Linked DNA regions of Homo sapiens: region 1 is linked to region 2. Evidence: fine-mapped QTL for protein levels in blood plasma. Region 2 holds a variant in brackets. A gene starts in the other region. All regions are shown on their reverse strands. Region 1 holds the start of HRC (histidine rich calcium binding protein). Region 2 overlaps GLT8D1 (glycosyltransferase 8 domain containing 1).

What was found. A credible set is the group of variants that fine-mapping cannot tell apart. PIP is the chance, under the fine-mapping model, that this variant and not a neighbour inherited with it causes the effect. Protein levels are from antibody-based Olink assays in UK Biobank. Linkage for the fine-mapping came from a reference panel and not from the study's own genotypes, which makes the PIPs less certain.
Region 1: HRC starts here. The variant in region 2 is the best candidate, but not a certain one, in a credible set for the plasma level of the HRC protein (UK Biobank, PIP 0.88).

Annotation. Positions count from the first base shown.
Region 1 is chr19:49,154,528-49,159,882 of GRCh38, reverse strand. HRC (histidine rich calcium binding protein) reads left to right here and starts at 4,487. Exons shown (of 6, transcript NM_002152.3): 1 at 4,487-5,355. The coding sequence starts at 4,646. It overlaps TRPM4 (transient receptor potential cation channel subfamily M member 4), which reads right to left and starts at 2,091. Exons shown (of 25, transcript NM_017636.4): 1 at 1,993-2,091; 2 at 1,624-1,691. The coding sequence starts at 2,016. RefSeq lists a silencer at 866-1,052 and an enhancer at 1,736-2,357.
Region 2 is chr3:52,694,991-52,700,331 of GRCh38, reverse strand. It overlaps GLT8D1 (glycosyltransferase 8 domain containing 1), which reads left to right. Exons shown (of 10, transcript NM_018446.4): 3 at 1-70; 4 at 2,398-2,611; 5 at 3,673-3,790; 6 at 4,014-4,098; 7 at 4,292-4,404; 8 at 4,745-4,911; 9 at 5,030-5,142; 10 at 5,297-5,341. Among named protein-coding and RNA genes, the nearest start is that of SNORD69, 4.9 kb to the right of the region's middle. The variant A/G (reference allele first, on the strand shown) is at 4,164.

The sequences.
Region 1 (5,355 bases), not on the chromosome of region 2:
AGCCATACTGCACTAATATATAGTCATAACAAAATACACACTGAAGTAGGAATGTGGATACTTCCCGCACCCCAAAAACTGTCTTGAAAAACAACTAGAGGGCTGGGCGCGGTGGCTCACACCTGTAATCCCAGTACTTTGGAAAGCCAAGGCAGGTGCATTGCCTGAGATCAAGAGTTCAAGACCAACCTGGGCAACAGGGTGAAATCCCGTCTCTACTAAAATACAAAAAATTAGCTGGGCATGGTGGTAGGCACCTGTAATCCCAGCTACTAGGGAGGCTGAGGCATGAGAACTGCTTGAACCCAGGAGGTGGATGTTGCAGTGAGCTGATATCGCAACACTGCACTCCAGCCTGGGCGACAGAGCCAGACTCTGTCTCAAAAAAACAAAAAACAAAAAACTAGAAAGCCTGGGCCAGGTGCGGTGGCTCACACCTGTAATCCTAGCGCTTTGGGAGGCCGAGGCCGGCGGATCATGAGGTCAGGAGATCGAGACCATCTGGCTAACACGGTGCAACCCCGTCTCTACTAAAAAAAAAATACAAAAAATTGGCCCAGCGCGATGGCTCACGCCTGTAATCCCAGTACTTTGAGGGGCTGAGGCGGGCGGATCACAAGGTCAGGAGATCGAGATCATCCTGGCCAACACGGTGAAACCCCGTCTCTACTAAAATACAAAAAATTAGCCGGGCGTGGTGGCGGGCGCCTGTAGTCCCAGCTACTCGGGAGGCTGAGGCAGGAAAACGGCGTGAACCCGGGAGGCGGAGCTTGCAGTGAGCCGAGATCGCGCCACTGCACTCCAGCCTGGGGGACAGAGCGAGACACCGTCTCAAAAAAAAAAAAAAAAAAAAAAAAACTAGAAAGCCTGGATCCGCTTGAGAGGCCGTCACTGAAGGGCGGGAGCTCCTCGCGGACGCACACACCCTATCTAGCTCAATTGGTGTCCCCGGCCACCAAGACAGGGCCCGCCCGCGGTAATAATTGCCACCTCCCAGTGGGAGCTGCAGATATTTCCCAGCGTCCTGTGCTGGGCGCTGTGCCAGGAATATCACAAGCATTAACTTGTTTAATTCTCATAATAACCCCAGGAGATCAAGCCTCTTTTGATGCCCAGATGAGAAACGGGACCCAGAGAGGTGAAATGATTTGCCCGAAGCCACACAGCACGTGTCCCAGGGGAAATTGGAACCCTGGCAGGGCCGTTGAATTAGGCTAAAGGGACCTTGGGAGCGCTGAGTGAGGGTTTCTTGCATGGATGGATGAATGAATGAATGAATGAATGAATGAATGAATGAAACAGAAATACCCAAAAGGGAAAGACAGAGACACAGAAAGTGACACGAAGAGACAGAAGCACATAGAAGAGACATCGGGGAGGAAAGAAGCAGAACCGAGCCCTGGAGCGTCTACACTGACCCTGAGCGGGAGAATGGCGAATGGGGAATGAGGGGTGTCTACACAGACCCAAACGCTCCTAGAGGGAGAGCGTCGGCAAGGAACGCCCTTGGGAAGGTCCCCGAGTCCAGGAATGGGGAAGGAGCAGGGCTGGGGCGTGACCATCCGCGGGCGGGGTCAGCGGGCCGCGGACCCTCTGGGGTCAGTCCAGGGGCGAACTCCTCACCCCGGATCTGTGGAGTCAACTATGAACGTCGTGCAGGTCTTCTTCTTGAAGATCTTGGGGATCCAGCTCTGGGGACAGGAACAAATGTAGGGGTGGAAGTGGGGTGAGAGGGCACCCAGTTCTGTCCTATGGGACACAGAGCCACCCACCCCGTGCGCTCCCCACGGACACAGGAGTCCGGGCCCCCAGCGCCCTCCCGCTCCAGACTCAGGAGTCTCGACCCCCATGCCCTGGACCCTGGAACCTGGACCCTCCCATCCCCCTCCTCCGTCTGACCCAGGAATCTGGGTGTCCAGCGCCCTCCTCTCTGGGAGCCTGGAGGCGAGGTCCCCAGCTCCGCGCTCCCGCAGACCCTGGTCCGGCGCTCACCTGCTCCTTCTCCGGCACCACCATGCTGCCGCGGCCGCCGCAACCTCCTGCAGCCCAGGGCCCCGGCGCTCCCTCCGCCGGCTCTGCTTCCAGACCCGCCCAGAGCAAACCGGATCCTCCACTTTCCAGCCTAGCCTGGGGCGGGGCGAGGTCTGGGGGGCGGGGAGTCTTGGAGACGCCAAAGCGGGAGGCGGGGAGAGGGCGGGTCCCAGGCCGCGATAAGGGGACAGAGGGACAGCGACCTGGGGGGTGCAGAGGTCCGGGCCGGGGGGAGAGAGACACACAGGGGAGACTCCAAGGGCAAGCGCGAGATGGGAACAGAAGGAGTTGGGGGCCAGTGGCGGAGAGGGAACAGACTCAGAAAGGAGGATGCCAGACAGGGAGGGGACAATTTAACCCAAAGAGGGGGAGACAAAGACTTAGGGGACAGAGAATCAGAAGGTGGGGCAGCAGGGACCCAGGGATAGACAGAGAGAGAGGGGGACAGAGACCCACAGAGAGAGGGGGACAGAGACCCAGGGAGAGGGGACAGAGACCCAGAGAGAGTGGGACAGAGACCCAGAGAGAGTGGGACAGAGACCCACAGAGAGAGGGGGACAGAGACCCAGGGAGAGGAGGACAGAGACCCAGAGAGGGGGGGACAGAGACCCAGAGAGGGGGGGACAGAGACCCAGGGAGGGGGGGACAGAGACCCAGGGAGAGGGGACAGAGACCCACGGAGAGGGGGACAGAGACCCAGGGAGAGGGGACAGAGACCCAGAGAGAGGGGGACAGAGACCCAGAGAGAGGGGGACAGAGACCCAGAGAGACGGGGACAGAGACCCAGAGAGAGGGGGACAGAGACCCAGAGAGAGGGGAACAGAGACCCAGAGAGAGAGGAGGACAGAGACCCAGAGAGAGGGGGACAGAGACCCAGAGAGACGGGGACAGAGACCCAGAGAGAGGGGGACAGAGACCCAGAGAGAGGGGAACAGAGACCCAGAGAGAGAGGAGGACAGAGACCCAGAGAGAGGGGGACAGAGACCCAGAGAGGGGGGGACAGAGACCCAGGGATGGGGGGACAGAGACCCAGGGAGAGGGGACAGAGACCCACGGAGAGGGGTACAGAGACCCAGGGAGAGGGGACAGAGACCCAGAGAGAGGGGGACAGAGACTCTGAGACAGAGGGGGACAGAGACCCTGAGAGAGGGGGACAGAGACCCAGAGAGAGGGGAACAGAGACCCAGAGAGAGAGGGGGACAGAGACCCACAGAGAGAGGGGAACAGAGACCCAGAGAGAGGGGGACAGAGATCCACAGAGAGAGGGGGACAGAGACCCACAGAGAGAGGGGAACAGAGACCCAGAGAGAGGGGGACAGAGATCCACAGAGAGAGGGGGACAGAGACCCAGGGAGAGGGGGACAGAGACCCAGAGAGAGGGGGACAGAGACCCAGGGAGAGGTGGACAGAGACTCTGAGACAGAGGGGGACAGAGACTCTGAGAGAGAGTGGGGACAGAGACCCAGAGAGGTGGATGCCAGAGATGGGGAGGAGACACCTTGACTGAGGCAAGGGGCAGAGGGGGATGCAAAAACCAAAGAATTGGGGGAAGGGCAGGAACTCAGAAAGGAGGGGCCAGAGATTTAGGGGAGAGAGAGGGACACAGACTTGGGGGAGGACTGACACTAAGATAAGAGTGGGACAGAAGCCCAGAGTGAGAGGGAGAGGCAATCCCATGGAGGAGGGACAGGGACCCTGAGAGAGCAGATGACAGAATTGAAGAGAGAGGAGGACCCGTGAACAGGAAAGGAGACCCTAGTGGGGGCAGTCATGAAGGGTGAGGAGTAGGAAATACTGACACACAGAGACGGGCAAGGCCACTTGTCTCCTGCCAGCCCTCTGTGATGGGGACAGCTGTGGCCTCCGTAACCTGAGTCCCCCTACCCCTCCCAGCTGTATTTATAGCCCTGGCCTAGCCCAGTCCCTGCCCCCAGATCTGAGTTCCAGGGACAGGAGGTCATGGGCACGTGTGTTGGGGGCCATGTTCCTTTCCCCCCATTCTAGGGCCTCAATACTGACATCACTCTCTCACCAGCACGTATCATTCCAGCTGGAAACACCCCGCAATCGAACCCCCAGTCCTTCCGTCCCAGGAGTCTCTCCCCTCTGATAAGTCTCTTCTGCCTCCCCCAGGTGCCCCAGGCTCCCCCAAAAACCTGCTAAAAGTCTAGCCTTTGTCTTTGCAGCTGCCAAACGTGAGCTTGTTGGTAGTTCAAAGTCAAGTCCCTTGGCCACCGTCTCCTGGCCAGGGAGAGACCCCTCACTGGTCCCCTCCCCAGCTGGGAGGAGGAGGAGCAGGAGGCAGGCAGGCGGGGACTGACCCAGAATAACTCAGGGCTGAGAGTAAATTTAGCTGGAGAGAGGGGAGGGGAAGGACCCTATTGGCTGGGGAATGGGGAGGGAGGGCCCCAGAGGGGGGTCAGGGGGCTCCGGAGACAGCCTCAGAGGGGTGTCCAGAGCCAGGCAGCAAGGACCAGAGGAAGGTGGACAGAGACCGAAAGGACAAAGGAGAGACACAGAGAAAAAAAGAGACCAACCCCAAAGGGACAAAGACCCCAACGTTTGTCCACATTGCCGCAGAGGCAGCTGGAGCCAGTGCTGCCTGTCCGTCCCCATGGGCCACCATAGGCCATGGCTGCACGCTTCTGTCCTCTGGGCTGGGGTGGCCAGCCTGCTCCTCCCCCCGGCCATGACCCAGCAGCTCAGAGGGGATGGGCTAGGCTTCAGAAACCGGAACAACAGCACTGGAGTCGCCGGGCTCTCCGAGGAGGCATCAGCAGAGCTTCGCCACCACCTCCACAGCCCTAGAGACCATCCAGATGAGAACAAGGATGTTTCCACAGAGAATGGGCATCATTTCTGGAGCCACCCAGACCGTGAAAAGGAGGATGAAGATGTCTCCAAGGAATATGGGCACCTACTCCCAGGCCACAGGTCCCAAGACCACAAAGTCGGAGATGAGGGTGTCTCAGGTGAGGAGGTCTTTGCAGAGCATGGTGGGCAGGCCCGTGGGCACAGAGGCCACGGGAGTGAAGACACGGAAGACTCAGCTGAGCACAGGCACCACCTCCCCAGCCACAGGAGCCACAGCCATCAAGACGAGGATGAGGATGAAGTTGTGTCCAGTGAGCATCACCATCATATCCTCAGGCATGGACACCGAGGCCATGATGGGGAAGATGATGAAGGAGAAGAGGAGGAGGAGGAGGAGGAGGAGGAAGAGGAGGCCTCCACTGAGTATGGACACCAGGCCCACAGGCACCGAGGCCATGGGAGTGAAGAGGATGAGGATGTCTCAGATGGACACCATCATCATGGCCCCAG
Region 2 (5,341 bases):
GCTCTCTTCTTACTGGTTTTGCACCATAACTTCCTCAGCTTGAGCAGTTTGTTAAGGAATGAGGTTACAGGTATGCGAGCACTTATTAATAATGCCTTAGAATCTGTTGCGGACCTGGTATTCTCTGTGTCACACATCCTAAGTTGTTCTTCTTCCGGTAGTACTAGCAGTTGTTTGTTAAGGGTTTGATCTGACAGAATATTCCTTTTCACCAAATCAGAGGCCTTAGGAGAGCCTCTGAGGGCTGCCATCTGTTCACATGTCAGCAGGACAGGGCTTCAGAAAGTGAGGGCATACCAGTGTCCTTGGTGTTTGATGCCTGCTCTAGTCACTAGAGTGTCAGTCTAGTTACTTTCCTTCAGCTGTGCAGCTGCATCAGTGGGACTGTAGCAATAAAAGTTTGTCAAGTGATTTTTAAAAATCACTGTGTTGTATAATATATCGCACAGTATATTGAATTAGTCGTTCATACTGTTCTCCCTTGGTACTGAGAAATGTTTGAGGCTTGAGTGTTTGTCAAAAATCATTTTTGGATTGCCACCCACCATAGCTGACCAGAGTGAGAGACTGTAATAGCTTTCCCCTGACTTTCACGGAGTGCTCTGATAGCATGTTTTATCACGTGTATATATGTATGATACATATAAAGTAATGCATGTTCCTGGTAGGAAAGTTTATAAAAAAGAGAACAGCGGCCGGGAGCAGTGGCTCATGCCTGTAATCCCAAAACTTTGGTAGGCCAAGGTGGGCGTCTCACAAGGTCAGAGATCGAGACCATCTCAGCACTTTGGGAGGCTGAGGTGGGCAGATCACGAGGTCAGGAGTACAAGACCAGCCTGGCCAACATGGTGAAACCCCGTCTCTACTAAAAATACAAAAATTAGCTGGGCGTGGTGGTATGCGCCTGTAGTCCCAGCTACTCGGGAGGCTGAGGCAGGAGAATCGCTTGAACCCAGGAGGCGGAGGTTGCAGTGAGCCAAGATCACGCCACTGCACTCCAGCCTGGTGACAGAGTGAGTCTTCGTCTCAAGAAAAAAAAAAAGAGACAACAGTATTTAAGCTCCATGAAGGCAATTTGTGTACTGTTTTATCTTCTGTGCCTATGGATGATGGCTGATACTAGCTGTTCAATAAATATTAGTTGGTTGAATGATTTCATTTACAATTTTGGCTTAGTACCTTCCAGTTTTTTCCTACACATCTTTTTTTCTGTACAGTTGAGATTGTACTATATATAAACTGTACATGACATGTTTTTCTGTATATCATGTCACTGTGATGGTAGAAACTCTTCATACATAATCTTAATGTCTATTAATTTGTTTCCACAGGATAACATCTTTTGCTACAACAGCTTTCAGACTTTTTGATGGCAGCCCTACAATAGGAAATACATTACATGTAGCACATGTACATACATGTGTATTTGCTTATTGGCTGTCTATCCTCAGAAAGTTAGGGATGTTTTATTCATGGCTGTAACCCCAGTGCCTAGATATTGCCTGGCACATAGTAAATACCAGGGTTCAATGAGGAATAAAAAAAAAAAAATGAAAGGCAAGAATGCATACAGGACAGTAATTGCAGTTTCCTTGTGTGATACACTATGTTTTCTTTGGTATTCTAATTCAGTTTTCTTTTTTTTTTTTTGAGATGGAGTTTTCCTATTGCTGCCCAGGCTGGAGTGCAGTGGTACAGTCTTGGCTCACTGCAACCTCCACCTCCCGAGTTCAAGCGATTCTCCTGCCTCAGTCTCCCAAGTAGCTGGGATTACAGGTGTTCACCACTACACCTGGCTCATTTTGTATTTTTAGTAGAGATGAGGTTTCACCATGTTGGTCAGGCTGGTCTCAAATTCCTGACCTCAAGTGATCCACCCGCCTCAGCCTCCCAAAGTGCTGGGATTACAGGCGTGACCTACCATGCCCGGCCTCTATTTCAGTTTTCTATTGCAATCCAGAAACTTTTTCTGTATAAATTGATTGTGACTCACTCAATTGGTTTCATGCCTACTTGTGATTCGTGACTTGAAAAACATTGATTTAGTTTGCTGCTAAGTTTTCACAATTTAAATAAAATTCTTTCTTTTGATTATATTTCAGATTTTGTCCTTAGGAAACTCTTGATACAAATTGCCATAATACATTCTAACAGGTTCTGTTATTTTCCTACCAGTAGTGTACCAAAGTGCTGTCAGTGTATTTTAAAAAATGCTTCCTCCACTTTTCCAAAAGCTTATTTACATACAGGGAAAGTTTCAGGGCTATATGCTTCAGTTTAATGGGGGAGAATGAGGTAGATCAGTACCATAATCCTTACCTTCCCTTTTTCCATGTCTTGGACTCTATATCAAAAGCCCATGAGATTGTAATCACAGTGCCTTCCTTGTGTTTTCAGATTCAGGAATTGTAGGGCCTCAACCTATAGACTTTGTCCCAAATGCTCTCCGACATGCAGTAGATGGGAGACAAGAGGAGATTCCTGTGGTCATCGCTGCATCTGAAGACAGGCTTGGGGGGGCCATTGCAGCTATAAACAGCATTCAGCACAACACTCGCTCCAATGTGATTTTCTACATTGTTACTCTCAACAATACAGCAGACCATCTCCGGTGAGCTCTGCTTATGTGATTCTGCTTCTAGAGGATGATTTAGAGCAGGCCAGCTGCCAATCCAGGATCTGTTTTTCTGTGGTTTGTATGTTGTTTTATACAATTGAAATTGTACCAGTGATAAACTGTACAAATGACATATTTTTTTTAGGACTGTATTATGAGCATATCCCCATAATAGGAGAAGTGATACAAGGAGCTCATGCCAGGAAGTAAGTCAGCTGTCACTCTGAACTGTTAACCCCACCTGATGGTGTTTTGATAATAATACTTTCTCAGTGAAGGGAGCAGTAAATGTTGATTTACAAGTCACAAGTTCCTTATTTCATGGACATGCTCGGAGCAGTTCTGGTCTAGAGTGGGAAGGGACTTAGCAACAATGGCAAGGTAGTGTTGTGATGCTGATCACAGATCCTGATCCAAATCCTGGCCCAGAGTGATCTGGGGAAACTTGGATAGTCTAATCCATTTTGAAAATGAATAAGACTTATAAAACTTACTCCAAATTTGTTGGTCTAACAAATTAACCAGTTGTCAAATTTCTGAAACATTTTGGTCCTTGTGGCCCTCTGCATGGTTCATATTTAGTTTTTAAAGCTGTAAATTCTGAACGCATTTAAAATACAGAAACAGAAGCTGTATAAAAATAGACTACAGAAATAACACTAAGTAGCCACAAAACACTGATTTGAAACTGACCTAGAAAAAATGTGCAGTACTCCTTTAGCAAACAGTTTTTTCTTACAGGTAGTGCCTCAGACTTGAGTGGTGGAATTAGGGTCACCACAGTTAAGAGTTGGATAGTCCAGGTGGTGATGAAATGTTCTTAATTCTATAGTTTTTCTAGAGTAGTTTTAGTGTTAGAAGATAATTACCATACAATCTTAATTCAGGGAGGGACTTTGGTGGGAATTACCCTCACTTCAGACGAGGAAACCAAAGCTCAGAGATAAAAGGAGCTTGAAAACACCTATTTGGTCCATAGGGTTTCTTTTGCATTATTCCCTCATTGGTTTGGAGACATTATTTGAAACTAAAATGTAGTGTTTTATCTTCATCAGGTCCTGGCTCAACAGTGATTCCCTGAAAAGCATCAGATACAAAATTGTCAATTTTGACCCTAAACTTTTGGAAGGAAAAGTAAAGGAGGATCCTGACCAGGGGGAATCCATGAAACCTGTGAGTTCCATGCATCCTTCTTTGCACTTGGCAGTATTAGGAAATAATGGAATACCTGGGTATCTGTGGGTATAGTGCAAGTAGTTTCCTGGGGACCAAGCCTGGGTGGTTCTAAGAGTCCTTTCTTCTCCTGAATGGGTACTGAAAGCATCCTAGGAGTTTCTGTGTAAATAAAAGCACAGCTAGTGCGGTATCCTATGCCAATTATTCTTTCCTTTTCCAGTTAACCTTTGCAAGGTTCTACTTGCCAATTCTGGTTCCCAGCGCAAAGAAGGCCATATACATGGATGATGATGTAATTGTGCAAGGTATCAAAAATGTCACCATGAGTGCTGTTCTCCACCCAGATTGGGTACAATTGCTAAATAAAACA[A/G]TGGGCTACAGTGGGCTGTAGTGGTTTATTTATGGTCTTCTATAAAAGGTCACCATAGGGAGAAGTGGGAGTAACAGGGAACTCTCAAGGCAACGGAAATGTAAATCTTAACATCTTGTCTATTTCAGGTGATATTCTTGCCCTTTACAATACAGCACTGAAGCCAGGACATGCAGCTGCATTTTCAGAAGATTGTGATTCAGCCTCTACTAAAGTTGTCATCCGTGGAGCAGGAAACCAGGTAAATTGCTTACCAAACACCCCTCTTCCTACAATATTGTTTAATGGGAAGAGGTTGCAAATTCAGGGAACTCTTTTGCTGCAATTTACACTCCCCAATCATTTCATCCCAAAACTCAAGCCTGCTTTTCTGTAGACTTCTTCATGGACTTGACAGCCTAATTGTTCTTGAACATCTGGTTTATTATGTCAACATCTAGGTTCCTATTCTAACTTGGAATTTCAAATATTTATTTTCTAATCTGAAGAAGTCAGTTTAACAGCTCTTCTCTCTACTGGCTATAAAATTGTATCTATTTTGTTTGAAGCAGTAAGTACATATATCCTATTTGTGTTTTTAGTACAATTACATTGGCTATCTTGACTATAAAAAGGAAAGAATTCGTAAGCTTTCCATGAAAGCCAGCACTTGCTCATTTAATCCTGGAGTTTTTGTTGCAAACCTGACGGAATGGAAACGACAGAATATAACTAACCAACTGGAAAAATGGATGAAACTCAATGTAGAGTAAGTATGTAACTGGCCTAGCTGTGAAAAACTGTTGTATTTCAATTCCTAGAGTCTTGACTAACAGGAGTTAGTCAGTACTTTTCACTAACAAACATTTGTTTTCTGTCCCACCAAGAGAGGGACTGTATAGCAGAACCCTGGCTGGTAGCATCACAACACCTCCTCTGCTTATCGTATTTTATCAACAGCACTCTACCATCGATCCTATGTGGAATGTCCGCCACCTTGGTAAGTAGAATTAACCAGTGGCATAAGCTAGTAAAGAATTGGTATCTAAAGAACTATCCTCAGGGATGGGGTATATTCTTTGTTTCCCTTAAGTAAGTTTTCTGCACAATTTCACATGGCGCAACGATGTGGCTATTTTTGTCTCAAATGTAAGGTTCCAGTGCTGGAAAACGATATTCACCTCAGTTTGTAAAGGCTG